Homo sapiens: one gene and its partners. The protein of the gene in region 3 interacts with the protein of the main gene of each other region in a biochemical or structural test. Each region holds a gene or a part of one and is shown on either strand. Other genes may lie near its edges. The genes, in order: DENND5A, MMP24, SIPA1L2, KCNT1, KIRREL1, ADGRA2 and PDLIM2.

Region 1 (3,102 bases), on a different chromosome or scaffold from region 3:
CACTTAAATACCAACTCCTCCCTGAAGTCTTCTCTGATCTTTCTCCTCTACCTTTTCAGCATATTGTATGAATGTACACTTCATTTTTGGACCCTCAAAACCTTCTTCCATGCTCTGTATTTAATTAGGACAAGTAAGCTTCTAAATGTTGGCCAGGCATGGTGGCTCACGCCTGTAATTTCAGCACTTTGGGAGGCCAAGGAAGGCAGATCACCTGAGGTCAGGAGTTCAAGACCAGCCTGACCAACATGGAGAAACCCCGTCTCTACTAACAATACAAAACTAGCCAGGCGTGATGGCGCATGCCTGTAATCCCAGCTACTCGGGAGGCTGAGGCAGGAGACTCACTTGAACCCAGGAGGCGGAGGTTGTGGTGAGCCGAGATCACACCATTGCACTCCAGCCTGGGCAACAAGAGCGAAACTCCATCTCAAAATAAATAAATAAATAAATAAATAAATGGTAAGGGGCCACGTTTTATTCAGCTGTCTTCCTACCAACTTCCATAAGGCCATTTAAATGTCTAATGAAGGAATAACTAGATATACTCTGCTTCAAACTTCCCCAGTGGTGTGATTTTGATCTTTCCTTTCAAAATGGGGCCCCTCTGCCCCGAGTTACATACACGTTGTCATCCCTACCCCGACAGATCACCACACACATAAGTCACGTGTTGCTTAATGACAGGGATACAGTCTGAGAAATGTGTCATTAGACAGTTTCGTCACCATGCGAACTTTATAGGGTTCTCATACAAACCTAGATGGTAGAGCCTACTATATGTCTAGCCTGTTGCTCCTAAGCTACAAATCGGTACAGCCCTGTCACCAGCCCCCAGGCCTGCTCTTCTACACTTCTCCTGGAGCTTCCTGCCACAGCAGCCTGAAGAATAAAAATGAAGGAATACTGTGCTGAATACCGTAGGCAACTAAAACACAATGGTAAGTATTTGGGTACCTAAACATCTCAACCTATAAAAGGTACAGTAAAAACAGAGTATAATCTTATAGGACCATCATCCCATAAACAGTCCGTCACTGACAAATGTTGTTACGCAGCACATTTTATGCAGTGTGTGACCATACACGATACACAGAGGAAATTCAGGGCTTCTAGGAAACCTTCTAAGGCCTCATCTCCCTAAGGGCACCTGATGAGCCATTCCTCACCCCTGCACTGCACCAGGCCTCCAACACCACCACCAAGGCTAACCGCTGTGCACTCTGGGCCCTGGGTCTGCAGTACCTGGCTCCCAAGCACACCAGCATCTGAAACTTGCCATCCTTGCCGATGTTCCGGGGAGTATTGTTGATTGCAGTGACAAATCGGCAGAAGTTCCGGGCTCTTGTATGCCAGTTTTCCTCAGGGACTACTTCATTCTTCTCTAATGTCTCATAATAGGTTTGTGCTTTTTCTGTGAAGAGTAGAAAAGCTTGCCAGTGAAAAGGCTCTCAACACCAACCCTGACGGTCCTACAGGCCACTTGCCATGGGCCTCTCCAAGTCCACACAGGTAACTTAATGAGAATAGCACAAGTGTTCTGATGTCACTGGTCATGTTTCAAAATGATCCTTAGCTTCCCTATCCTTATTTTTTAAATTTATGTATGTGGCCCTTGATATAAAGATGTTCTTTTCCCTAGTCTGAAGACACAAAAAATTCTGAGGATGGTTTCTTGCATGAAAATTCTCCATATGGGTGCAACACAGGGCTTGGGGCTCCAATACGCTCAACTGGACTTTGGGATCTATAAGGGGAAAGTGTGAGGACTCAGGACTAAGTCCATACTAAATAACAGATGTCTAGAAGAATCTTTTCTGTGCAATTCTCAAGAGGTAAGCATTTACCAAGGACGGGGAGGAGAGCTCTTGTCACTCCCTTCAAGAAAAACCAGAGCAAACAAATGAGATCTGAGAGTCACCTAATTTGGGTTCTGCCTCTCAGAGTGGTCAGCACCCATGCTATGCTGGTGAGTCCCCTTATATCTCTACATGCTTCTCCCACCCTCATACTCCAGCTCAACTCACCCAGGAAATCCCAAATGAAGACATTTTTGAAGAGCCGGGGCGATTTAAATCCATGCTGGAAAGCCTGTTCCAAGGCCGAGACAAGGCCACACTCTCCACAGAGCAACAGCGTCAGACTGCCTCGCTACGTAAGGAAACAGGGGAGGGTGCCAGGCTTGTCTCAGCCGAGCTGCCCTCCCACCATTGCATCCCTAAACCCACAGCCCAGAGTTGGGAGGGCTGCAAAAGACAGGCTAGGACTTTGTCTGTTTCCCTAACACCTGGCACAGTGCCTGGCTCAGAGCAGCTCCCAGTGAAGAGCTGCTGAATAAATGGATGAAAGAAGAGATGATGGATCTGGGTCACACACAAGGAGATTCTCCACTGGAGGACAAAGCCAGTGTGGCCACTATTCAAGGAGACCCAGGCAAATCTAGAAGAGGACAGGAATAGGCACTGTTCACTAGGGGCCCAGGGACTCTATTGGGTCATCAGTATGGAGGGAAAACAGGGTAACCTGAGGCAAAGGCCCCCAGAGGAAGGAGTCTGCTCCATCTCCAACTAGCTGAGGCACACACTCTACAAGACTCTAGGGTGTCCACAGCACATGGGCCTGGAAGAGCATAACAAGATAATCGGAAAAACAAAATTATTCTCTCTTATTCAATGTAAGGCCCTGGATTGGAGGGCAGGAAGGCTCACCTCTTTCTCAGGCTTATGGAAGTGCTTCACAATGCCATTGACTGCCTCCCCGATGGACTCCTGGATCTGCCCAGTGTTCAGCTCTAATAAAAATCAAGCAGACATCCCTAACCAATCTCTGAGGCTAACAGTGCTTAGCTGCCTGAGCAGGAGACTGAGGACACGGGGAGGGCCCATAGGAGAGGCAGGGCAGCTGGACCCTAGGAAGCAGAGGCGCTTGCCCACCCAGCTTTGCTGATTTAGCTCTTCCGCAAATCTTGGGGGAAAAACACAAAAGCTAACACCTTAGAGTTCTATCTCTAAGAAATGCTGGTAAAGTTTAGTTTCCATTTTACCTTGGAATTGTGGGTAACCAAAAGAGAGCCAAGCCTTGGCTGTGAAGCCCAGGAATCAG
Region 2 (4,626 bases), on a different chromosome or scaffold from region 3:
AAGGAGAGATGAGCTTGTCGAGTAAGGATGCGTTATCAATAAGCAGTGGGAAATATGGCCTGCTAATGGAGGGGTAGGGTGGAGACAGACTCCAGAGGGCTTAAAAGACAGAAAGAGGAGTAAGCAATATTATCTGCCGGCTTAAAAGCAACAATATTTCTATAAGGTGTCAATCAAGTGATCCCCTAGTGTTCAGTGAAAGGATAATTAGGCACAAATTATTGAGAGAAGCAGTGGATATAATTTGTCTATCTTTCAGGAAGTTTTGGACAATGTATTAGACATTTAAAATGGAGTCATTGTCAAATTAAGGATGATGTTTTTGTCACTTAGAAAACAATAGATAGATATAAATGGTCACTTCCGTGAATGAAAGGGGATTAAGAGTGCAGGGGGCCCCAAGAGACCATGCTGGGACCTGTCTCACTTAAATTTTTTATAAGTGATCCAGAAGAAATATAGCAAAGTGAAAATTTCAAGACTTCAGATCATATTAAGCCCTTTCAGACAGGGAAATGCTATGCCAAAAGAGAAGGAAGGAGGAAGAGGTGGAGGAAGGGAGAGAGAGAGTGAGCGAATGCTTGAAGGAAGTTACTGAGTGCAATGCAAGATGGCAGACAAACGTCAAGGTGGAGAAATGTAAGGTAATGCACTCCGATAAAAATAATCCACATACAGGGTGTTGTGTTCCAGGCTATCAGTTTTGACCCAGGAAAAGGCTCCGGGAGCTATTATAGATTGTTCCCTAAAGGCAGTGGCCTAGTGTGTTGAGATCAGGAAAGCTGACAGAGGGAAGGGGGAAGCAGGATGGGACCAGGAGAGCAAAGAAGAAACCAACCTTCCTTTATGCAAAACCGTAGGGTCCTGTATCTGGAGACAATGGTCAAGTTGACATCTATTGAAAATTAGGGCCAAAAGGTATCTAGAAAAGGACAACTAAAATGACCCAGAGAATGAGTGTGGCTATTCTAGGGGTCTCGTGTCATAGGGGGAAACTTAAGTTTAAAAAGACAAAGGCTAAGAGGTGGAATAATCAAAGCCTATAAAACTGATACAGGTAAGGACTAGCTTCCTCTTAATGCTTGAAATATTGTAGGAATAAAAAAGTTTCAGAGTTGAGATTGTCTAGCTCTATCTCTTTATGTTAGACATGGTGAAATTCAAGCCTAGAGAGGGCAAGGAAATGGCTCAAGGTCACACAAACCAATGGGGGCCAAGGTCAGATCAGAGCCCAGGCCTCCTTAATCCCAGGCCAGGGTCTTTCCACCTCATCCTGTGCACTCAGGCAGTCTAAAGCAATCTTTCTTCTAGGGTATAAACTTAGGAAATGCATTACTTTAACATGTGATAAAACACATGTGAAAACACAAAGAGGCTAAGCAAAGTTTCCACAACAAGTCAACCAGCAATTATAAAATCTTTGGAGGACAACTGCCAACTGGCACTAAAGGTTCTTTTACACACCATATCTTTTTTGTTGTTTTGTGGAACCTGTAACCCTTTGAGAGGCTGAAGAAATCTAGGGGTCCTCGCCTAGAAATACACACATTTGCACTTACAAATTTGTACGCAATTTCAGTGCACGTATGACCCCCTGAGCTCCATGCCCAATTAAGAATATCTCTTGAGGCAGATTCTTCTAAACAAACAGACTGCCTGCTTCAACAAATATACTCCATCTCTTAGGGTGGCGAGGCTATCACTCTGATTTTCCTCAGCAAAACACCATTGTCCCAACATCATTTATTAGAATATTGCAGTCCTCTAGGTTGGAAGATACTAGAGAAATTAGTCCAACTGCACCCCCCATGAGATATAGGATAAGGTCATGGGTAAATAAGGGGAGACTAGAGTCAGCCTGCCTAGGTTAGAATTCCAATTCCATCACTCACTAGCTGTGTGACCTTGGGCAAGTTACTTAAGCTCTTTGAGTCTGTATCCCCATCTGTAAAATGGGGATAATAATTGCAGCTATTTCATAGAGTAGTTATGAGGATTGAATTGGATAATTCGTATAAAACATAGCACCAGGCCTGGCACATAGTGAGTGTTCAGTAAATGCTAGCTGGCATTATTGTGATGATGATGTATGCATCCATGCAAGCATTATGCATGCCTCCATCCAATCCCCTCCGAGAGCTTTTACTTGCACATGCCAGTGATGAGCAGCTCGCCGCCTCCTAAGCTGGTTGAGCAGCTCCAATTGTTACAAACTTCTTCCTATATCGAGCCCAAATTTGTCTTCTTGCAACCCCCACTCCCGCTGGCCCTAGTTCTGCCCTGTGGGGCCAAGCTAGAACAAGTCTATCCTACCTCCACCTGACAGCCCTTCAGCTACGAAGACAGTGATCGAGTCCTTCCTCCGCCCTCCCCCTCCCCCTTCTCCAGCTTGAACATCCTCGGTTTCTTCTCCCAACCCACAACAGACTGGCTGCGCTTACTATTTACTCCGAGGCGTTGTACGGTTTCCCTCGCACATAGTCATGCAGGCCACACACCCCACTGCCAACACAACAAACCCGACCCTCGTGCTCGGCCCCCGCCCGCTGCCCCTGTCCGCGGTGCTGAAGCAGCTCCCGGCCTCGGCGGCCCTCGGCGAGGCCCTCCCCAGCCCCCGCCCTGGGCCGCGCCAGCCCGGACCCAAGGCGCGGACCCCCGGCGCGCCGCCTCCGCGACCTCGGCAGTAGGTGCGGCCCGGCCCAGGCCCGTCCCCGGTGCCGCCCCCCGCCCTGCCCGGATGCCCCGAGCCCGCGCCCCGGCCCCGCGCGCCAGCCCCACCTGCCCGGCGAAGGGCGCCTCCGCCTCGTCCGCCCGCGCCACCGCCACCGCCACCGCTGCCCGGTTCCCTGCCCCCGCCGCCGCCGCCGCCGCCCGCGCGGCGCCCGGGAGGCAGCAGAGCGCGGGCAGCAGCAGCAGCAGCAGCCGCCCAGGGACCCGCCAGCGGCTCCAGCGCGGGGCCTGGCCCGGCGGCGGCGGCGGCGGCGGCGGCCCCGGCGCGGCGCGGCCGCCCCGGCTCCTCGGCATCCCGGCGGCGGGGCCCGCGCCCGGCCCGCCTGCCTTCGCCGCCGCCGCCGCCGCCTCGGCCGCCAGCGCGCCCCCGCCTCCGCGCGCCCCGCCCCGGTGGGGGGCGGCCGGGGGCGCGGGGGCAGCACCCGGGCGGGACCTGCGAGGGCAGTGGCTCCCCGACCAGCCCTGGGGCAGGGGCCGCGGAGCGGCGCTGGGGAGGGGGTTGCAGAGGCTAAAAGAACAGTTCTAGAGGCAGGGTCCGAAGGGGTGGAACTGGAGGTCGGGGTCTGGGGGTAGCCCTGAGCAGGAGGGGGAAGAGGCTAAATCAGTAATCCTGGAGGTAGAACAACTGGATGGCCCTGGGGGAACATATCCGGGGTTGGGGGTCCGGAACCCTGGGGAGAGGGTCCTAGGGAGTGGCATTGGAGGAGAGGGGGCCTGAGAGGCAGCCTGGGGGAGGAGACTGAGGAGCGGCTCTGGGGTAAAGGCGGGGTTCGAGAGCAAGCTAAAGAAATAGCCCTGGGTCTGAGAGGGTGACTCCGGAGAGGGAGCTCTGAGTGGCTCTCCTGGGCCGGGGTGGTGGGGGAAAGGGGTAGAGAAGACCTGAGGAGCGTTTAAGAGGGGGCATTCCTGTGAGACATTAGGTGAAGTTGAGGTGAAGCTCAGTCCCTCACCCCTAGAGGGAAAGAGCTCATCCAGCTGGGAAGATCATCTTTCATCCAAAACAACCCATATTTATCAAGCGCTTTCTATTTGTAGGGCTCTGGGCTACTTGGGATGCTGAAAGGAAAAAAAAAAACACCCAAAAACAAAAACAAAAAAGAGAAGGCCGATTTCCTGGAGTGCAGAGGTTTACAGCTTGATGAGAAAACATAAACGCAAAGAAAAACAGAATGGCAAACACCACGTGTCAACAAGGATACAGGCGGCTGCTCCAGGGGTCGAGGGAGACCTGATGAGGGGCTGGGGAAGTTAGGAAAAAGTGTAATGGAGGAGGGTGGGACTCTAGCTAGGACCTGAAGGAAAGGCTGGATTTAAACCAGGGGAGGGGAGAGGAGAGGGCATTTCAGGGAGGAAGTTGAGGGTGTACAGGATGTGCCTGAGGCGGCAGATAAGTTTCTCTGGAGCACAGGGTTCCTATAGGAAAGTGTTGGGAAGTGAGGGAAGTTGTACAAGACAGTGAATGCTAGGATAATAAATTTGGGTTGTGTTCTGAAGGAAAATGGGGGAGGGTGGTCATTAAAGGTTGTGTGTGTGTGGTGTGTGTGTGTGTATGTGTGTGTTTAAGCAGGATGATGTGTGAAAATAGTATTTTATGATTACGTGGTAATTTGGAGATGAAAAAAGGGCACAGGCTTTAGCGTCAGACCTATGTTCATATCTTGGCTCTGTTCCATTTTTATAAAATGATGCTACTATTACTGTATAAGATTGCTTTCAGCATGAGGTGCTTGACACTTAATAGATATTCCATGTTAGTTCCCCTCCCAGTGGAGAGAATAATGACCAGAGGAGGCAGAGAGATTGGTTAGGAGACTAGTGTAATAGTCTAAGTATAAGGAAATAAGGATAACAATAATAATTAACATTTATTGAGTGCCTAATACATACTAGTTACTG
Region 3 (4,089 bases):
TATTTTAAAATTGGATTATAGTCACTGCCCCAGAAAGCTGAGGGAGTTAGACAAGGCCATGGAAGAACCCCTTATCCCACTTGTATCATCTGCAATAGCAGGATATTCTACTCTGCTCTTAAATGCTCCAAATAGATTTTTTTTTTAAGATGGAGTCTTGCTCTCTCACCAGGCTGGAGTGCAGTGGCGCGATCTCAGCTCACTGCAACCTCCGCCTCCCGAGTTCAAGCGTTTCTCCCGCCTCAGCCTCCTGAGTAGCTGGGATTACAGGCACGCGCTGCCAAGCCTGGCTAATTTTTGTATTTTTAGTAGAGACGGGGTTTCACCATGTTGGTCAGGCTGGTCTTGAACTCCTGAACTCATGATCCGCCCGCCTCAGCCTCCCAAAGTGCTGGGATTATGGGCATGAGCCACCACGCCCGGCCAGATTTTTTTAAATTACCATTTTTCTCCGTAGTTTTACCTGTTCCAAAAAGGAAGAAGATAAAAGTTCACTTTTAAACACACTAATGCTTGCAGGGATGACAAGGAAAGCAAGTGCATATTGCCAGAACCCTGTTCCATGAAGGTAGGTGTCTCGATGTACACTTCTCTCCACCTTCCTCAACACCTCCCAGGGTGCTACAGCAAGGGAAGTACAGATGTGCTAAGCCTTTGCTATTGGAATAACAAAGAGCGTAGTAAGATGAAAGCAGTGTCTCTTGAAACTCTCCTAGGGCCTTGTTCCTCATTCCATGCACATATCCTGTGCCGACTCAACATCCCCTCTGCTCCACAGCTTATCTCAGAAAGAACTAAGTTACGGTGCCAAGCTAAGAGGATGAATTTAGAAAGCTTCACATAACCAGACGCACAGCGACAGCAGCCATCAGACATCACCCAGATTTAACTGCCCTAAAATTAGCAGTCAGAGCAAAGTAGTTACTGCAATGATTGCGTCAGAGCTATTCTGACTGGCAAACTGCCAGTTTTAAACAAATTGTCCTGCTTTCTCTACCAGGGAAACAATATTTTGGAACAGAGCCAGCTAAGCATTTCAGTGAATGTTCAAATTCTAGCTTCTCTATTAATGTTGTATAATTCAATGACAAGGTGAACAAAGTCTACATAGGCTACATCTGCAAGGGTGTTATTTTCTTTGTTGTAAGCACTTATTCTTTGGGTGAGTAAAGTACTGTGGATGAATCCTTTTAAATATTTAAATGCCTGAAATGTATTTAGGGATTCACATTCAACTGGCTTAAACAAAGATTATGCAAATCTAGCAAAATATAAATGCAAAACAAAAATTGTTTTCCTCTTATATTTCTTTTAATCTTGGCAAAGACTCGGGCTAAAAAAAATGTTCTCTGCATGATCACAGAAGGACCCACTCACTTCCCAACAAAGAATATATAACCTGATTCAATCAGTAAAACTGCTACCTCACCACAAATTACAAAATTTCTAGTTAATAACAGACAATTCACTGGCTGAGAGAACAGGGCAGTTTTTAGACCAGAACAATGAGCTCATTAGCCCAACCCTCAGCCTCCACTTCCCCCTTTCAGTGATAGTGAGTCGGTAATTCCGCCATTCTTATATGCACACACCTTCTTTAGTTCCCTCCCTCTCTCCCTTCTTCCTTTCTGTCTTTTCATTCTTTCCTTTCATCATGATTTATTGAAACCTACCATACCTTACAAGTGAGCTGTAGAATAAAGAACACTATAGCTGGAACCAAGAGAAATGGGTTTAAAACATAAGGACTCAGATTCAGAAAACCACACTTTCATTAAACCTTAGTTTTTGTATCTGTAAAAGGGAAAAAAATCCCACCAGCCTTATAAGGTTCTCGTTAAGTATACATGAGAGAACACAAATGAAAGTTCAAGCACGGTAACATTTTACACTCGCCTTTAAGAATATCTCTCCCCAATTCTTTATTCTCTTCATAAATCAACATTAGTCTCCTTCACTTATTCTTGTCATTTAAAACATTTTTTTTTTTTTGTGACAGGGTCTCACTCTGTCACACAGGTTGGGGTCCACTGGCACGATCAGCCCACCGTAACCTCGAACGCCTGGGCTCAAGGGATCGGCCCTCCTCAGCCTCCCCAGTGGCTAGGTCGACAGGTGTGCACCACCACACTCGGCTCATTTTAAAATTTTCTGTAGAGATGGGGCCTTGCTTTGCAGTCCAGGCTAGTCTCAAACTCCTGGGCTCAAGCAATCCTTGCCTCAGCCTCCCAAAGCACTGGGATTACAGGCATGAGCCACTATGCCCAAATTAAAACATTTTAAATGGGAAAAATGACCTATTATTCCAAACAAATGAGTTACAACGATCCTCAAATAAAATTGGTTGATAAATTGGATGCTTCTACTATCATGTATGCCTTGCTTACAGCACTTATCACAGCATACCTTATACACAAATGTAAACAAATAGGAGTTAGAATGACATCCCTCTAATGTCATATTATAAGAACTAGCACTACGTTAAGATATTAAAGATAAAAGACTTTTACCATATAAAATTAAGACTATGGCTACTGAGCACCTACCACATTTAAGGCATAAATAATATCCTCATGTACTGAGTCAACAAAAGATGCACTATACAATACTGATGGGGTTTTTAAACATCATGATTTCCTGTAGAAATGAACCCTGCTAATGGACTGAGAGCTAAAGGACTACAGACAGTACTACACAATTCAGAAATCCTTTCTGTTCAGTAAGCTTGATTAAGCCCCAGCCAGGGCTTTTAAGTCAACTGCAGCCTCATGGGATTCAAATAGGGCTATGCAGGCATCAGCACAGATGAGACTTTGAAACCTGGGAAAGGTGTGAATCATACTCTCTCATGAAAGGCGGCCACCTAAGGGTGCCCAGGCTCCCAGGAACCACACCCCTCTGAATGGGGCTATAAAGTTCTTGATGTAACAGATGGAACACAGTCCCTCTTCAGAAACTTCCACATTTTTACCAGTTCCATATCAGAGTTCAATCACAGGTCATTTCAAACGACCCAGGAAAGGCATAAATGAGGTATAAACTGTTGTTCAAGATAGATCATGTACAATAGAAATAATGATTAGAACTTGCTCAACAGTATTTAGTTCAACAAAAGCCAAGATAAAGGAAGTTCTTTTACGTTCAACCCACAACTCCCAATCATTTCTTTAACAAATATTTGTTTACTGTGAGCCTATTATGTGGCAAAAACCACCTAAGTGCAGGGAATACAGCAGTAAACCAGAAATGTCCCTGCCTGTTTGCTGCTTATGTTCCATTATTAAAATCGAACAGGAGGATGGGTGGGGGTGGATGGTGCTCGTTTAGCTGGAAGTTACTGGAGATACAAGAGCAGGGCTCCCTGCTGTCTCTCCTCACTCATTCCCAACCCACTAACGGCTGGGAAGCCAGGCATTCCTTGCACTACGGGTGGCTGTGTGCTACAGTTCTGGCCAATCACATACAGACAGAGCTAGGCTGTCAATCTGAACTTTTAACATACCCTGATCCTGGGAATGCTTTCGTCTGAGTGTGATAGTATGATGCTTCTTAAACAGCTGAGTTCAGAACAGGCACAGTGGCTCACGCCTGTAATCCCAGCACTCTGGGAGGCCGAGGCGGGCAGATCACGAGGTCAGGAGATCGAGACCATCCTGGCTAACATGGTGAAACTCCGTCTCTACTAAAAATACAAAAAAAAATTAGCTAGGCATGGTGGCAGGCACCTGTAGTCCCAGCTTCTTGGGAGGCTGAGGCAGGAGAATGGCAGCAACCCAGGAGGCAGAGCTTGCAGTGAGCCAAGATCGCACCACTGCACTCCAGCCTGGGTGACAGTGCGAGACTCTGTCTCAAAAAACAAAACAAAACAAAACAAAAAAACAGCTGAGTTCAATTAGAAACTTTCTAAGGAGAATAGCATCGCCATTACATTAACCTCCTACCCCTCAATAAATGAAACCCCAAACCAAGACCCACAAGCAATTCTGGAAGAAAACAGGCCAAAGTCAGAAATGTCTTCGGGAAAAAGAATAAATACACAGTAAATATAAGGCCCATCAAGAGTGGAGTTTGTCTTCCGCTTGCCTCACA
Region 4 (4,089 bases), on a different chromosome or scaffold from region 3:
CTCTTGCAAACACACCCTTTGGAGGCCCCGAACCTGGGGAACGTGGGGTGCCAGAGCCTGTGGGTCGTGGGGTGCTGGGAAGAGGTAGGCATCCCACCTGGGTGGCACCTTCAGAAAGGCCTGGGAGGCTGGGGGCTGGTCAGGCCAGATGGGCATGGGGGCTGCCTGCCTTGGTGGGGCCTGGGAGGGGGCGGGGGTGCACCTGGTGTCCAAACTCACAGGCTACTCCCCCCAGGCCTCAGCTTCCCCACCACCAGTGCAGGAGGGAGTGAGTGTCAACAGCCTTCTCTGAGCCGTGCTGGGGCCGACACATCCGTGGGACCCGCTCCTGCCTCGGCTTTCCCAGGGCCCTGTGGGTGGGTGGGTGGGTGGGGCCTGGCAGGCTTCTCCATGTGAAGCTGCGATGTTCTGGTGCTCCGCAGAAGCTGCGTGGGCACGGAGGGGTTGCTTACCTGGGCTCTGAGGTCGTGGGGCTGCAAAGGAAACAGGCGCAGTCTGGGACCTGTGGGCGCACCCCTGCCCCCCACGCCGCCTCAGCCTGGGGTCTGCACGGAACATGCTTAGGGCTGGTGGGCACGGTGCCTGCTGCTGTGTGGACTGCAGCACAGGGGCTGCCCGTATTCTTCCTGAAGACTCCCCTGAGCCTCTCTGCCCCCGGTAGGGGTCATGGCTGCTCCAGCTGGAAGCGCTACACGTGGGCACACGGACCAGACGGAAGGAGCTGCCAGCAATAGCAAAGCTGATCTAGCCCAGGTCCCTGACACTGAAGGTGGGGATGCTGTGGGTCACACAGGACAGGGGCTGCCACAGTCCCAGCCCCCGGAAGGTGGGGATGCTGTGGGTCACACAGGACAGGGGCTGCCACAGTCCCAGCCCCCAGGCTGCCCCAGAACCTCCGAGGTGGAGAAGACGTGGCTCTCTGTCCGGTAGATGCCAATGGGGATCTCGGCGCTGGAGGAGCAGAGCTTCTGGAAGAGGCGGCCGTACGTGCGGATCCACAGGTCGCCCTCGGTGATTTTCATCTGCAGGGTGGGAACCCTGAGTTGGCTGGGGCAGGTGGCAGCACCCAGAGCCTCCTGGCCACCGTGAATCAGGGGCAGGTGCCCATCCACCCACTTGGACAGCCCAGCACGCCCCCAGCCCAGCGCAGCCAGGGGCACTTACGGCACAGAGGTACCCCGAGCCCGGCGTGGTGTCCAGGCCCAGCAGCAGCCGGGTGATGGTGATCATGTAGTCCTTCACGAAGGACTGGCCAGGGAGGGAGGGAGGGAGGGAGGGAGGGAGGGAGGGAGGGAGGGAGCCACAGTGAGGCACGCGGGCACGGGCGTGGGACACAGGTCCATACCCCACCGGCCACGGGCTCGCCACCCCTCATGCATACACACACACAGAACCACCAGGTCCCCAAGCACCACATGACCCACAGGCAGAGTTCTGGGAGGCCTTTTCTAAGAAAACTCCCTTGCCAGGCACCCATAGGTCAAAAAGGGCCCAGAAATCCCTGGGGCAAGGACAGGGCCCAGAGGTCTCCTTGGAATCCAGGGAAGGTCATTCAGAGGGAGTCCTATCATTCAGAACAGGGACCAGGCTGAAGAGCTGAGGGCATGACGGGGGTCCCACCCAGGCGCCACCCTCCTGCTGCCGCTTCCCCGCTGACCTGGTAGAGCAGTGTGTCCAACATGCTGATGCTGAAGACGCGGCCGGCGGCGAACGGCAGGCGGAACATGAAGGCCAGGTTGGAGCCATTCTCTCGCTCCCTCTGTGGGAAAGGAGGGGCCTCAGATGGGCTGGTGCCGAGGTCCCTCCAGTGGCACGGCAGCCACGGGGTCGAGGGCACTGTGTGTGCACCGTACATGTGTGCATGATACCTGTGTGCACATTTGTGCATGGTGTGTGTGTCCACGTGTACACAGTGTGTGTCTGCATGTGTGCATACACCGGCAGGCCTGAACCAGCTCTATCTTCCCAGACACACTCAGGGCCAGAGCCCGGGAGGAGTGATGTGGGGCTCTGATGAGAAGGTGGACTCCCGGCGGCTGCCATGGGCACTGCGCTTGGTCAAGCGCCCTGCTCTTGCCATCCCGAAATTCCAAATCCTCCTGATAATCCTCTCCTCCCCCGGTGTTTTGTAAGTGGTGCCGGAGGGCGTGTGGAGTCTGGGCTGAGGAGGAGCAAGCATCGGGCTCCCTGCTGTCCTTGGCCTCCCCGTCCCTGTGCTCCAGGCTTGCAATGGACCCACTGAGTTTCCTGGGGCTCCCGTAACAAATGACCGCAAACTTAGCAGCTAAAACGACACCTGTCTCCTCTCTCCCGTTTCTGGAGTCGGGAGTTTGAGGTGTCTCAGGCTGGATCCAGGCCTGGGCAGGGCCCCGCTCCCTCTGGAGGCCTGGGGGCCTCCTTCTCTTGCCTTTTCCAGCTCCTGGAGGCCACCTGCCTTGGCTTGTGGCTCCCTCTTCCCTCTTCTGAGCTGGCCGTGCAGCTTCTTCCCACCGGATGGGGACCTCTGGCCTCTCCCTAGAAGGACCCTGACGGCGTGAACCTGCCGGATGCTCCAGGAGGATCTCCCATCTCGAGGCCCGTGACTTAATCCCATCTGCAGAGGCCCTTCTGTCACGTGAGGCGGTACATCCACGGGCTCCGGACCCGGCCGTGGCCAACTCTCGGGTCATTCTTCAGCGGAGGGCCCCAACCCTGGAGCTCGGCCTCCAAGCAAGTGTGCACAGGCAGGCGTGTGCGCCCACGGAGGCCACACTTCCCCCCGGAACCAGAACTCGATTCACAGGTAAAAGACACGACAGCGACAGGACAAGCAGGCAGAAGCCCCTTTTCCTCCGGGTTCGCCCTTACTCATCAGTGGCCGGTGGGAAGGCTGGGGCGTGAGAAACAGTGGAATTAGTTTCGTGCGGCGTTTCCGCTCTTGGGGCAAGAACCAGGTGCGATGAGCTGCGATGGGCGTGTGAGTTTGCAATCGTGGTGATTTGCATCCAGAATTCCAGCCGTACTTCGCGGAGACGAACGTGAAATTCCAGAACAACTTGCAATTTTAATTTTCCTTTACTCAGAACAACGCTAAACAGGAAACAAGAACCACGACAGGGCCAGAGAGAGACGTGGAAGGAAAGAAAAAGCTGGACGTTTCAGGACCTTCCAGAGATTTCCTCCTGCTTTCTGGACAGGAGGGCTTCAGCAGGGGCTGAGCGGGTGCCATTCACAAGTGACAGTGAAGACAGGAGCACACAGGAGCGGATGAGCCCTTCCTGAGCACGAGACCCCCGGTCAGAGGGAGCAGGACAGGCACCGTGCAGCCCCAGGATGGGCAGAGCCAGCCTGAAGGAAGGCTCCTGGTGAGGAGGAGAGATCACACAGGCTGACCATGTGAAAGCAATGAAGTGGTGGAGGAGTCCTGGGTGCTGGAGACCAGGGGAGGTGGACGGCAGGGGAGGTGGGCCTCAGGGGAGAGACTCCTCTCACACACCGGGGCTCTGAGAGCCTTCTGGAGCCAGCCCTCAAGGGGAGATGCATGTCACCCCACCAGCAGCATCCTTAATAATAGTTTCATTTTTTTGCTTGGTTTTTTTTGAGACAGGGTCTCGCTCTGTCGCCCAGCCTGGAGTGCAGTGGCACAATCTCGGCTCACTGCAACCTCTGCATCCCGGGTTCAAACAATTCTCCTGCCCTAGCCTCCCAAGTAGCTGGGGTTACAGCCACCACGCCCGGCTAATTTTTGTGTCTTTAGTAGAGAGGTTTCTCCATGTTGGCCAGCCTGGTCTCGAACTCCTGACCTCAGGTGATCCGTCCGCCTTAGCCTCCCAAAGTGCTGGGATTACAGGCATGAGCCACCGCCCCCAGCCATTAAATTTTTTGTATAGATGGGGACTTGCTATGTTGCCTGGGCTGGTCTCGAACTTCTGGCCTCAAGCGATCTTCCTGCTTCAGCCTCTAAAAGTGCTGGGATTACAGGCATGAGCCGCTGCACCTGGCAGAGCATCTCACTGACGGTCGTGTATGCCATCTCCACCTCCTCCCTTTTTCCTTCCGGAGTCGTGCCTGGAATCCTGTCTTTATCCTTCCACTGGGCCTGGATGTAGA
Region 5 (3,648 bases), about 75 Mb from region 3:
GCTTTAAAAAACATTATCTGGGCCAAGCACAGTGGATCACACCTGTAATCCCAGCGACTCCAGAGGCCGACGTGGGTGGATTACTTGAACTCAGGAGTTCAAGACCAGCCTGGGCAACATAGCCTCTACAACAAAACAAAATAAAAGTCCAAAACAAAATAAAACAAAACATTATCTGAAAACTATTTCAGGTATCTGCAAACACTCCTGAGAAATGAGCAAACTGAAACCCTTGGGAACTCAACTCAGAGAATTTAGGATTTCTCAGCAGGATGGCCTCTGTGTGTGTGCACTGCTGCACCATCTGTTTTTTCATTCTGCTTCACTACAAGTTCAAAAGGTTGGAGACCTTGTAACTTTGCTTTTTACCCAAACCACAGCGTTTTAAATAAACAAAACCAGCCATTCTTACACACTTGTCCCAATTCCTTTGGGATCTAGATCTCAGATTCAAAAGTCTCCCCTTTTCCCATTCCCATAATGCGATTTGGCACAGAACATTTGGATGCTGTTTTCCAATAGCAGAAGCCTCCAGCTGTTTGTCCCTGAACTGCCATAATTGGCCTCAGGGTTCTGCACAAGTGGCAAACTAGAGAATACGTTTTTGCCCCACGGCCTGGAGGTGGCACAAACATTGCTTCTGCAATTTCAATCCAAACCTGTTTTTTCCCCAAACCAGGACTAACACCCAAAGCCAGGCAGGCTTTTAAGTAACTAGCCGTTAATGCATTAAATAACACAAAACATGGTACTTTTTAAAACATTTATATTTATATATATAAAAAAATTAAATATATATAATATATAGTGTGTTTGAGACTAAAAATATAGTACATAATATTTTTAAAAAAAGGAAAAAAAAGTAGAATAGGAAAAGGTGTGAGGGACACACAGATACACATTGCTAAAAACCTACAATGGTTTGTCCTAACAAAAATAATATCTTTTTTTCTCTTCTCTTAATTATCATCATGGATCCATTTATTTTTGGGGTCTGGGTGGAGAAAATTCAACAGGAGCTAGAAATGGAGGTTGCAATGCCAAGAATGGCTGGGTAGAAAATGTGACCACAGGGAGCCCTGGGCCTCTTCTGGTGAAATTGGACTTCTCAAAATTTTCTGGGTCACTGTTGCTAACAAGATTGTGTGGAGTTTTACTGTATTGGGATTTTGGCTGCTCTTTCCCCAGAGTTAGGGTATTCTCAGGGGGGACAGCATCTGAAGAGCTCCAAAAGCAAACAGAAGAGCTCAGGGCCCATCGATACTCAACAAGGCCAGTGGTTGGGGCCAGCAAAAAACCAGGGTAGGGACAGCAGACTGGCAGGAATGAGTGACAGTTCTATGCAAATGGAGTTATTATTATTATTGTTATTATTAATAAGGGCAGGTTTGTACCAGAACTGCCCAGTATGGCCTGTGACTTCTGCGCAGCAATTATTTCTCCAGGGACAGGGCCTGAAGCTACCTCACAGTGATGCAAAAAAATGGGATTCCCCACTAACCCCCACACACACCCCCTTCCTACCAAACCACACATCTCTCAGTCCTCTCCAGCAGCCCAGAGGTGAACGTCAGGACCACGCTGACAAAGATGAGCCAATGCCTTTCACAAAAAGCCTGGCCTTGAGGAGAGGAGGAGAAATACCATAGGGGGATAGGAGGAGGCCAAGAGAAGGGAATGGGATATTTAAATGCTAATTTTACAGCATCTTCACAAAAATAAATGCCTTTCAATTACATCCCTTGGCCTGTGCACTTCAGTGTTCATTATGGCCTCGCCAGGGTCAGGAGCTTCACTAATCCTTTTGGGCAATTCTCAACATGCACAGTGGCCTGTAGAGGCACCAAGCAGTGGCCTGGCTCAGGTCAGACAGCACTAACTTGGGGAAGCCAGGATTTCTGAGGCCAGGGTGCTTGGGGAGGAACTGGAGTTCAGCAGTAGGGACAGAACCTTCCACACAGCAAAGAACAAGGCAGTTCGCTCCAAACGGGTCTTGGCTTTAATGTGGTTTTCTTCAAACCCAAATGGCTGAACATTGCTATGAACATAGGTCATGTATATTGAGACACTGATTCCGTTTTATGGAGCCCTGTGGCTCCTGACAGGTTAACGAGAGGGCACGAAACTCCAGTGCGACGTGCTCCATTTTGAAAGCAGATAAAGCTCCCCTCATCAGAGTGAAGAGGAAAGTAGCCCTGCTGGAATAAGGGGAGAGCGTACCGCTTGAAGACAGGGTGCTCAGATGTTTTCATTCCAAGCAAGACAGTGATAACAGCACAGCACTGCTCCCATCCCTGGCCCCTTTCCTTTCTCACTTACTAGGCTTTTTGCTTCATGCAAACTCTGTGGCTGGACTTTGAGGGATCCAGAATTTAGGATATAGGGCGGGTCCTTCACGAGGGAAGTGACCGTGGCTCAGCCAAAATCACAAGATCCTCCTCAAGATCCAGAATGTATTCCAAAGCTGTTGTACCCCTTTCCCTCCACCGGCTCCCCTTGCAAGCTGCTCCTTCTCAGGCAGGGGCAGCTGTGCTTACTCCCCGACCTCTGGCTCCAGGCACCTTGGACTGCAGGCTTCACCTGTTTGGTGAGAAGAACAAGCTGTCCCTGGGCCAGAGGAATGTTCCTAAGGATCAGGGTGGAGGAAGGCTCCTCCCATTTTCCCCTACAGAAGGAGTGCCTGAAACCTAGGCACATAACAATATCCCTATGTGCATACTATGTCCTGCCCTGGCAAAAGGCACCTTTGCAAACCCATCAGAAATGAGTGGGGAGCAGCACAGATGACCCGATAGCCAAAGGATAGCCCCACATCAATTTTACTCTGAGGTTTAGGGTGTATTTTGTGTTGCTGTTTGGGATAAAGGGGTCCCTGGTGGAAACTAATTCACTTCTGACAAGATAATGAAGCCCATGGTGAAAGCTTCTTTGAACAGGAGAGAACCCCCCCAGCCAGCTCTCCAGCCCTCACCATGCTTGCTACTGTTCCCAGTTCCTTGCCAGCAATGGGCAGTCCCATCCCTACCCCCAACCCTATGGGTATAACAAAACCAGAATAGTTTTAGGTTTATGCAACCCTCCCCCTTCATTTTACAGGCCAGACAAATTGGGGGCAATGAACAGAAAGTTAGGCCGAGATCTAACCTTTGCAGCTTCAGGACTGGGTCCTGGGTCTCCTGACCTTTAGTCCCTTGCTCTTTCCACTAAAACAAGCCACCAAAGGTGATCAGGATCACCAACTACTGAGGCATCACCATGTTGCAGGACTCCAGGATTCGACAGCAAAGCTCTGTGATCAAGGACGCCTTCCACTCCCCAGAAAAGCTATTCCACTGGGCCCATCAGGTAGGTTCCAATTCAGATTCTGATGCACCAACACGTAAGTTACAGAGGGCAGAGACTACCTTGGTTGCTGATGCTTCCCTGTGCCTTCCAGGGTGCTTGTTTGACACCCAAGAGGCTCCAGTTACCTTGTTAAGGAGTAGAGGACAGTGAAGTAGCTCTGTGTCAGGCTTCTGGAAACTAGGCTTCCTTTCTCAACAATTCTCCCTGCACCATCAGCTCAATTACCTAGTAACCTTAGGCCCTCTCTCCATCATTTCAGTAGAATGAAACTAATACTTAAGCTAAAAGGGGATAAATAAGAGA
Region 6 (4,103 bases), on a different chromosome or scaffold from region 3:
CAGAGGAAGCTGAAAGTATATTAGTTAATGACATAACTGGGCTTAGAAGCTAAGTCTTTTCTAGTTTTTTTAAAGACAGGGTCTCTTTCACCCAGCCTGGAGTGCAGTGGCACCATCATAGCTCACTGCAGCCTGGAACTCATGGGCTCAAGCGATCTGCCCACCTGATCCTCCCAAAATGCAGGTATTACAGGCGTGAGCACTGCGCCTGGCTCTTTTCTCATTTGAAGTAGCTATGTTCTTTTCTTTTTTCTGATAAATAACGTTGAAAGTAGAGGCTGTTGGTGTCAAATAGCCTTGTATTTGAAGCTTGGTTACTGCCTGGCTGGATGACTATGGGAAAGTTTTTTAACTATACATGCACATAAGATGGTGCACGTGCACGTAGATTAAATGAGAACGTTGTAAAGCACTCAGAATAATGGTGATTGGGAGGCGCCCAATAAATGTTCGTGCTCTCCTCCATCCCTCCACCTTCCCCTAACAAGCGGAAGACGCCCTGTTTTCTCTCACTACCTTTATTAACTTGCTGCCCAGTGAGCTTGAGTATTCCTGAGGGCAGAATAGCTTCCCCATCTTGAGTGGGCTGTCTTTCCTCACTGTGGGAGAGCAGCCCCTATATCATTAAGATCCAACCCTCATTTTGGTTATTTCAGCTTCAAACTGTTCCAAGCTTCACCTTCTGTGCCAGCCAAATACGTGGAAGACAAAGAGAAGATGCTGTCTCGAACAATGCAGTTGGTGGAGCTGGCAAATGAGACGTGGCTGGTGACCGGGAGGCATCCCTTGCCCGTCATCACTGCTGCGACTTTCCTGGCTTGGCAGTCGCTGCAGCCTGCAGATCGGCTTTCATGTTCCCTTGCCCGATTTTGTAAATTGGCAAATGTGGACCTGCCCTACCCGGCGTCCTCCCGCCTGCAGGAGCTGCTGGCTGTGCTGCTGCGGATGGCTGAGCAGCTGGCCTGGTTACGAGTTCTGAGACTTGACAAACGGTCTGTGGTGAAGCACATCGGTGACCTTCTCCAGCACCGCCAGTCACTGGTCCGCTCTGCCTTTCGGGATGGGACAGCAGAAGTGGAGACCCGAGAGAAGGAGCCACCGGGGTGGGGACAGGGGCAAGGAGAAGGGGAGGTGGGAAATAATTCCTTAGGTTTACCCCAGGGGAAGCGGCCGGCCAGTCCTGCCCTTCTCTTGCCACCCTGCATGTTGAAGTCCCCGAAGCGGATCTGCCCTGTACCCCCTGTCTCCACTGTCACTGGAGATGAGAACATTTCTGATAGTGAAATAGAACAGTATTTGCGTACCCCTCAGGAAGTTAGGGACTTTCAGAGAGCCCAGGCTGCTAGACAGGCTGCCACGAGTGTCCCTAACCCTCCCTGATGGATATCCACTGGGAGCACTTCATCCTGTTCTGACAGCTTGATAACATTCCTGTTATAACCAAGGATGGAAGTGTACACCAGTCCGTAGGTATTGCTTTTCTTGTTTGAAGGAACCAAGAGGGGCTCTGCCATTAGTTGGACCCTGGGTCCTGGAGTAAAGTCAGGAGTGCAGGGATGACTATAGGTAGGAGAGATTCCCATCCCTTGGTGTGGGAGAGCAAGTTGCCTATGTCCATGTTCTGTGAGATGGCTTTCCTCATAGATGGATGGGAAAATGTCAGGCTCTTTGCTGCTGGTTTGAATTGGACACACTGCTGCGGCTCCTCCTGCAGGCCTGAGGGGGCTTCCCTCTGCTTGTGGAGTGGTTGGCATTCCCAGCAGTATCAACCCTCAGAGGAGCGGGAACTGGGGAATTCTGGCCCTACGTGCATTCACAGGCAATGATGGGTTTGTGTGTATGGTGTCATGAGATCCTCTACCTCATAACAAAAGGACAGTGGGTAGACTAAGGCAGTAGCTCAAAGGGCTTTGCAAAATTTTAATATATTAAAACAAGAGGCATCTGCTAGAAAACATTCTATTGTATAAAACCCGAGTTCTTAAAAACATGTTTTCTTTGGCACTTTCATTCCCTCCCTCCCCTTTCCCCAGCATATTGCAAAAAGCTCTCCAGTGCTAAGGCATTGGCAGGGTGTGTAAACAGCAGCCAGCATATGTGGAAGAATAATACAAAGCTTTTTTTTTTCTTCTAATATGTCTGTGCAGCAAGCATAAATAACAGGACCCATTCCAAGGAGTGTGTGTGGGTTTTCCCCCTCCCCTGTGTCCTCTGTCACCTTGGTGATGAGGCCAGAGTGATGTGAAGACTGGGAGGGAACCCTAGGTCAGACCTTGGTTTCCTGTTGTTCTTCCCAAGACCCAGGGTTCCCTCGGTTTCCATTTGGTCCTGTAGTGAAATGCTGGTGGTTGGTTTTAGGTTGGGGAAAAGACGGGTGCTGGTGTTTAAAAGGAGTAAAGGCATAGGCCCCTCATGACCTGCAGGGACCCCAGCCACTGCCTCTGGGCTTGGCTTGAGCTCCTGGGAGTCGGGAAGCTGGTTTGACATTTTGTAGGTTTCTCTCTACTGTGGAGCTGGAGATCAAATGATTGGGATGGTTCTTCCTCTGGCCTTACGGAGGCAAGGAAGTGCTCTTCCTTAGTCCCGTGGTGTTGTAAGGCTGAGACTAGGGAGATGGGTCTTGTAACTGAAAAGTAACTGCTTCTCCAAACACCACCTGCAGCTTTCTGGGGCACCATTGTTTACAGGACTAGCTTTAGGGCATGACTAGATTCTGCCCCAGTTCCACCTGCCCTCTCCCTCTACTCCCCTCAGTTCACCCACAGGCACCTGGCAGTCAGCTGTTGAGGTGCAGGGCCTCAGCTTTGTCCCGGTGTGCCACCTCTGAACCCTGCTGTCTGGTTTAAGTACCACTCCTGTGGGAATGGTGGCATTGTTCCTAGTTGTGCCCGGTTCCCACTCCCCTCCCCCAGGACTGGTTGATGTCTAGAGCTGCCTTTCACGTGGCCCCACCCTCCCCTCTTGCATAGTGGATCTGAAAAGCAGCACCTTGTGACTTAACATCACCTGCTTCATGTGCTGGGCTAGCTCTCGTGCCAGCCAAACTCGGGAGGAAAAGGGACCTAGGATCTAGGCAGGGGCTGGGCTGAAATCAGTAGAGGGCAGGGAGGAAAGAACACAGTTCCCACGCTCTCATCTCTGCTTTGCTGGTGAGGCTGATGGCCCCCAGTGAGGCCGCATGGACAGTAGGCGGGGTGGGAGTACTTGGGGAGGGTGCACCTGGGATGTGCTGTGCCCTTTCACACAGACGGAGGCCTTCCCCGTTCCTGGGAGGGCACCGACAGTCAGACTGCCCCGGGCTGGACGGAAATGTATTATGCGTGTTTCTGGGATTGTCTGTCGCTACCCCAGAGGGATGCCCTCTAGGCAAGTGGGGAACATCCGCCTGTGGGCTTCCTCCAGCCATCGGCTCCTCTGCCTCCAACCTGCTGACTACGGAGACACCTTGGAGGGCCCCGAGGAGCGGGGGAACGAGCCGCGTGGCCAGCCCGTCTACCGCGTCGCCCGCCCCACCTTAGACGGTAGTTTCGCTCTTCCAGAGTCCGGTCTTCATGCAGCCGCCGCTGGCTACCTCCGCGCCCATCAGGGTGACGTCGTCGTACTTGCCCCCCTTGGGGGCGCCGTTTAGGCTGGCGGCGTTGAGCGGGTACGAGCGGCGATGGCTCTCCTTCTCCAGCGCGCCGCCGCCCTTGAGACTGTCGCGGCTGGCGCTGCGGCGCTGGCCTGCCCGGCCCGCCTCAGAAAGCGGCGCGGCGCTGGTGTCGCTGCCCTCGGACGGCGTGAGCATGGGCTCGCCTTCCAGCTGCAGGCCGGCGCCCGGGCTGTTGCGGCTGCTGCCCAGGTAGCTGTCGGTGGGGCTGTTGTGCAGACTGCCGCTCTCGCTGGACAGCAGCTCCAGCGCCCCCGCCGCGCCCCCGCGCAGGGCCTTGAGCCGGTTCTTGCCGCAGGCCTCCCCCGCGCGGTGTCCCTTGGCCCGGCTCTTGTGCGCCCGACGCCCGTGGTGCACGTTGTTGGGGTGGCGGTGGGCGAGGTTTCCCCGGGTGCCCGCCGGCTCCGGCTCTCCTTCCCCGCCGGCCGCCGCCCCCGCCTCGCACACCTGACTC
Region 7 (4,089 bases), on a different chromosome or scaffold from region 3:
GAGGGCGTGCCCCTCTCGCTGGTGGGGAGCTGGGCCTACTTGTCTGGAAGGAGGCAGGCGGGTCTCGCCCTTTGTTTAACTGGGGAGACCCCTGAGAAAGGGATCAGGAGTGACGCGCTCAAAGGCACCCTGGCCTCCAGTGGGCAGGGTGCACAGCTGGCCCAGTCACCGTGGGCTCTAGAACTTGAGGCAGCTCACTTTCCCTCTCTGGGTTTCAGTTTCTCCATGGGTTAAAATATAAAGGATTATTTCTATGAAATCAGTAATCAGGCCGGGCGCAGTGGCTCACACCTGTAATTTCAGCATTTTGGGAGGCCGAGTCGGGCGGATCACCTGAGGTCAGGAGTTCAAGACCAGCCTGGCCAATACGGCGAAACCCCGTCTCTACTGAAAATACAAAAATTAGCCGGGCATGCTAGTGGGCACCTGTAGTCCCAGCTACCTGGGGGGCTGAGGCAGGGAGAATTGCTTGAACCCAGGAGGTGGAGGTTGCAGTGAGCCGAGATTGCACCACTGCGCTCCAGCCTGGGTGACAGAGCGAGACTCCATCTCAAAAAACAAAAAAATCAGTAATCTTCCCCCAAATCAATCTACAAACCCGAGGCTGAGTGATATCAGTGACAAAGTCCAGGCAAAATAGAAAAAAAAAAAAAAAAAAAAAAAAAAAAAAGGGCAGGATAATGTGAGGACTCTCTAATAAAACTGAATGTTTGAACTTTCTGATGAAGTTATGTACGTTCTACTTTTTAGAACCAAACTATCCTTTCTTTTTTTGGGGTGGGTTTTGCTGTTGTTACTGTCGTTTGAGATGGAGTCTCACTCTGTCGCCCAGCCTGGAGTGCAGTGGTACAATTTTGGCTCACTGTAACCTCTGCCTCCCTGGGTCAAGCAATTCTCCTGCCTCAGCCTCCCAAGTAGCTGGTGTTACAGGCATGCGTCACTATGGCTTGGCTAAATTTTTTTTTTTTTTTTTTTAATTAGAGATGGGGTTTCACCTTGTTGATGACCAGGCTGGTCTGGAACTCCTAACTTCAAGAGATTCACCCTCCTTGGCCTCCCAAAGTGCTGGGATTACAGGCGTGAGCCACCGTGCCCGGCCTTGGTGTTTTTTTGAGACAGAATCTCGCTGTGTTGCCCAGGCTGGAAGGCAGTGGCACAATCACGGCTCACTACAACCTCCATCTCCTGGGCTCAAGCGATCCTCCCACCTCAACCTCCCAAGTAGCTGGGACTACCGGCATGCACCACCATGTGCAGCTACTTAAAAAAAAATTTTAGTAGTCATGAGGTCTTCCTATGTTGCCCAGGCTGGTCTTGAACTCTTGGGCTCAAGTGATCCTCCTGCCTTGGCTTCCCAAAGCGTTGGGATGATAGGCGTGGGTCAATGTGCCTGGCCAACTGTCCTTTCTTTTAAGGAACCATGGTTGTCATTGATGATAGTTGTTTGTCTTGAGTTTGACAAAGTTAAAAGTTGACAACCGGATGTCCAAATTTTCTGTAGCTTTTACTGGTGTTGAGAACTAGATCTGGGAACAGTTTTGGCCTCTTTTGGGGGTTGCAGGGTGCAGGGCCCCTGTGACATTCCCTCCCTCTGTTGCCTTCTCAGGTCTCAGGCTACGTCTCCAGGGCAGACCAATGGGGACAGCTCCTTGGAAGTGCTGGCGACTCGCTTCCAGGTAAGCTGGTGCCCTCCCCTGACAGCCTCAGCACCCTGATCACTGGTGCATGAAAGTGAGGCCCGAGGGCAGGGCGGCCTTGGCGGGGCAGCCCTGCCTTTCCTGACACAGTCACTCTCTCCACAGGGCTCCGTGAGGACATACACTGAGAGTCAGTCCTCCTTAAGGTCCTCCTACTCCAGCCCAACCTCCCTCAGCCCGAGGGCCGGCAGCCCCTTCTCACCACCACCCTCTAGCAGCTCCCTCACTGGAGAGGCAGCCATCAGCCGCAGGTGAGTGTGCCTGTGAGTGGGTACCCTGGTCGCCTGCGCTGCCAGCTCCAGGCTGGCTCCTCTGAGTCTCAGGAGCTCTGCTTGGGAGCCCGGGGCAGCATCCTCCCTGGGCAGGCTGGGGGTGGCCCTGGCACACACTGTCCCTTTCCCACTTTCAGCTTCCAGAGTCTGGCATGTTCCCCGGGCCTCCCCGCTGCTGACCGCCTGTCCTACTCAGGCCGCCCTGGAAGCCGACAGGTGAGGCTCCCTGGGGGAGGACAGGCTGGAGGAACAGAAGCACCTCCCGTTCCTGTGGGTTGCCAGTGCCCCGGGACTGCAGGCGGCCAGGCCCACCTGGGCAGCCATGGCCTCCTTCTCCTGGCCACAGGCATGCTCTGCTCCTGAGCCAGGGAGGCCATGCTTCTGGTCGTGGGCCACCTGTGCTGTGCCCAAGACCTGCCCAGCAGTGCCCAGTAGCCCGTCCATCTCCTGCACCCCTCCCCTCATCCCCCTCCCCTCCCATCCTGCTGACTTCCTCCCTGCCCAGTATGTTTCTCTTGGGCTGTGGCTGAAATAGTTTCGCTGCTGTTGTTGGGATGATTCCCTTTCGTCTCTGGCTGCATCTCTCGAACACATTCCTCCCCATTCCAAGACCCGGGCCTGCCTGACTCCCACCCACACCCTCCCTTCCTCCTCTGACTCAGCCCAGAGATGCCCCAGTGGGACTGCGGTTCTGCCTTGAGCGCTCTTGGCTTATTCTGTCTCCTCCTCCCCCTACCCCCGCCAGCTCCCCTGGACTCTCTTTCAGCCAGGTCCCAGTGGCCCCTGGTGACAGCCTAACCCCCTTCCTGGGTGGTATTTCTCCTCTTCAACGGTGGGGGATGGTGAGGGAGTGAGGCAGCCAACAGCCCTGGGCCGCAGCTGCTGGGGACGGCGTGGGGGGCACGTCCAGCCTTTGGGGTGATGGGGATATGGCCCAGCTGCTGAGCCCTACCTTTGGGTTGATTCTGCATTCCAGAAAGCAGAGCCTTTGGGGGTGGCCAGGGAGGGCACTAGAACCCAGAGGCTCTGGAGGAGGAAGGAGCAGGATCTTTCTGGGGGCCTTCCGAACAGCGGCTGCCTAGTGACCCGCTGCGTGCCCACCCAGAGGCCAGCCTGGCACTGTGGCCATAGAGATATATTCCATGGGTCCCCTTGTTAAGGAATTGAAGATGCAGTTGTAGAGATAAGGCAAACTTGCAAAACAATTTTGGAGCAATTAGGCACTAAGCAGTGTGGTATTAATTACAAAAGCAGGAGGCGTTCTGGGAGGGGAGGGGAAGGAAGGCTGTGTGAGGAGTATTGCTGGACGTTAGAGGTGGTGGTGAGAGGGTTTAGGGAAGGATGAGCAGGAGGCCCGACATGCTGGGAGATGGAGAAACACTGGTCCGGGCGACGGCTGATGTATTGGGGCTGGGGGATTTTTTAGGGGGAACCTTTGTTCTGAGATGAGCCAGGAATGAGCTTGTTTCAAGAGGGCTGGTCAGTGTCAGTCCTGGCTCTGTTCCGCGACACCTCTGGTGGGCTGTGGTCTCAGCAGGACCCACGTGCTCAAGGGCAAGCCTTCCCGAGCTTCCCCATCGTGTTGCCCCCAGTCCAGGAAAATGAAGGGTGTGGGAGGTACAGAGGCATGGCTCCCAAACCAGCGGCAACACCTGAGAACTTGTTGGAAATGCAACTTCCCAGGCTCCAGCCTACACCCGCTGAATTGGGCATGGGGCTTGTGGGTCACGAGCCCAGAGCTGGGTGTGGGGAGACTCACTTGGGTCGGTCCCACCTCTGCCTGACGACTTGGACCAGCCCCCCTTCCTCTCCCTGGGCCTCAGGTCAGACTAGACGCTCTGAGTTCCCTTCTCTGACCTTGATGACTCTGCTCATTCCTTCGGCAAATATTTGTCGAGCAGCTGCTTCATGTCAGACACTCATCTGGGCTCTGGGGATGCAATCGTGGAAAAACAGAGTGACACCTCTGACCCTATGGAGCTGACGTTCTAGTCTACAAATGAGGCTGTGGTCCCACGGGTGCACAAGTCTCAGGGTCCCACAGCTGCCTTTTGAGAATCACTGTGTAGCTGGGTGCTGTGACATGTGCCTGGAGCCCCAGCTACTCCGGAGGCTGGGGC

The links.
Region 1: the proteins of SIPA1L2 (region 3) and DENND5A interact in a test that uses a peptide from one of them, tested with the Homo sapiens proteins (one large-scale study listed by IntAct).
Region 2: the proteins of SIPA1L2 (region 3) and MMP24 interact in a test that uses a peptide from one of them, tested with the Homo sapiens proteins (one large-scale study listed by IntAct).
Region 4: the proteins of SIPA1L2 (region 3) and KCNT1 interact in a test that uses a peptide from one of them, tested with the Homo sapiens proteins (one large-scale study listed by IntAct).
Region 5: the proteins of SIPA1L2 (region 3) and KIRREL1 interact in a test that uses a peptide from one of them, tested with the Homo sapiens proteins (one large-scale study listed by IntAct).
Region 6: the proteins of SIPA1L2 (region 3) and ADGRA2 interact in a test that uses a peptide from one of them, tested with the Homo sapiens proteins (one large-scale study listed by IntAct).
Region 7: the proteins of SIPA1L2 (region 3) and PDLIM2 interact in a test that uses a peptide from one of them, tested with the Homo sapiens proteins (one large-scale study listed by IntAct).

What each region holds. Positions count from the first base shown.
Region 1 is NC_000011.10:9,140,695-9,143,796, forward strand, and holds part of DENND5A (DENN domain-containing protein 5A), read right to left. Parts: intron 2,792-3,102; coding exon 2,709-2,791; intron 2,152-2,708; coding exon 2,028-2,151; intron 1,415-2,027; coding exon 1,246-1,414; intron 1-1,245.
Region 2 is NC_000020.11:35,225,137-35,229,762, reverse strand, and holds the start of MMP24 (matrix metalloproteinase-24 preproprotein), read right to left. Parts: upstream 3,074-4,626; 5' UTR 3,025-3,073; coding exon 2,779-3,024; intron 1-2,778. UniProt on the Homo sapiens protein: Metalloprotease that mediates cleavage of N-cadherin (CDH2) and acts as a regulator of neuro-immune interactions and neural stem cell quiescence.
Region 3 is NC_000001.11:232,619,758-232,623,846, forward strand, and holds part of SIPA1L2 (signal-induced proliferation-associated 1-like protein 2), read right to left. Parts: intron 1-4,089.
Region 4 is NC_000009.12:135,781,694-135,785,782, reverse strand, and holds part of KCNT1 (potassium channel subfamily T member 1), read right to left. Parts: intron 1,760-4,089; coding exon 1,658-1,759; intron 1,249-1,657; coding exon 1,165-1,248; intron 1,023-1,164; coding exon 894-1,022; intron 474-893; coding exon 453-473; intron 1-452. UniProt on the Homo sapiens protein: Sodium-activated K(+) channel. Acts as an important mediator of neuronal membrane excitability. Contributes to the delayed outward currents. Regulates neuronal bursting in sensory neurons. Contributes to synaptic development and plasticity.
Region 5 is NC_000001.11:158,097,364-158,101,011, reverse strand, and holds the end of KIRREL1 (kin of IRRE-like protein 1 isoform 1 precursor), read right to left. Parts: 3' UTR 750-3,648; downstream 1-749. UniProt on the Homo sapiens protein: Required for proper function of the glomerular filtration barrier. It is involved in the maintenance of a stable podocyte architecture with interdigitating foot processes connected by specialized cell-cell junctions, known as the slit diaphragm.
Region 6 is NC_000008.11:37,841,767-37,845,869, reverse strand, and holds the end of ADGRA2 (adhesion G protein-coupled receptor A2 precursor), read right to left. Parts: coding exon 3,515-4,103; 3' UTR 1,381-3,514; downstream 1-1,380. Other genes in the region: BRF2 (transcription factor IIIB 50 kDa subunit), read left to right, coding at 657-1,380.
Region 7 is NC_000008.11:22,583,215-22,587,303, forward strand, and holds part of PDLIM2 (PDZ and LIM domain protein 2), read left to right. Parts: intron 1-1,606; coding exon 1,607-1,676; intron 1,677-1,802; coding exon 1,803-1,948; intron 1,949-2,106; coding exon 2,107-2,185; intron 2,186-4,089. UniProt on the Homo sapiens protein: Probable adapter protein located at the actin cytoskeleton that promotes cell attachment. Necessary for the migratory capacity of epithelial cells. Overexpression enhances cell adhesion to collagen and fibronectin and suppresses anchorage independent growth.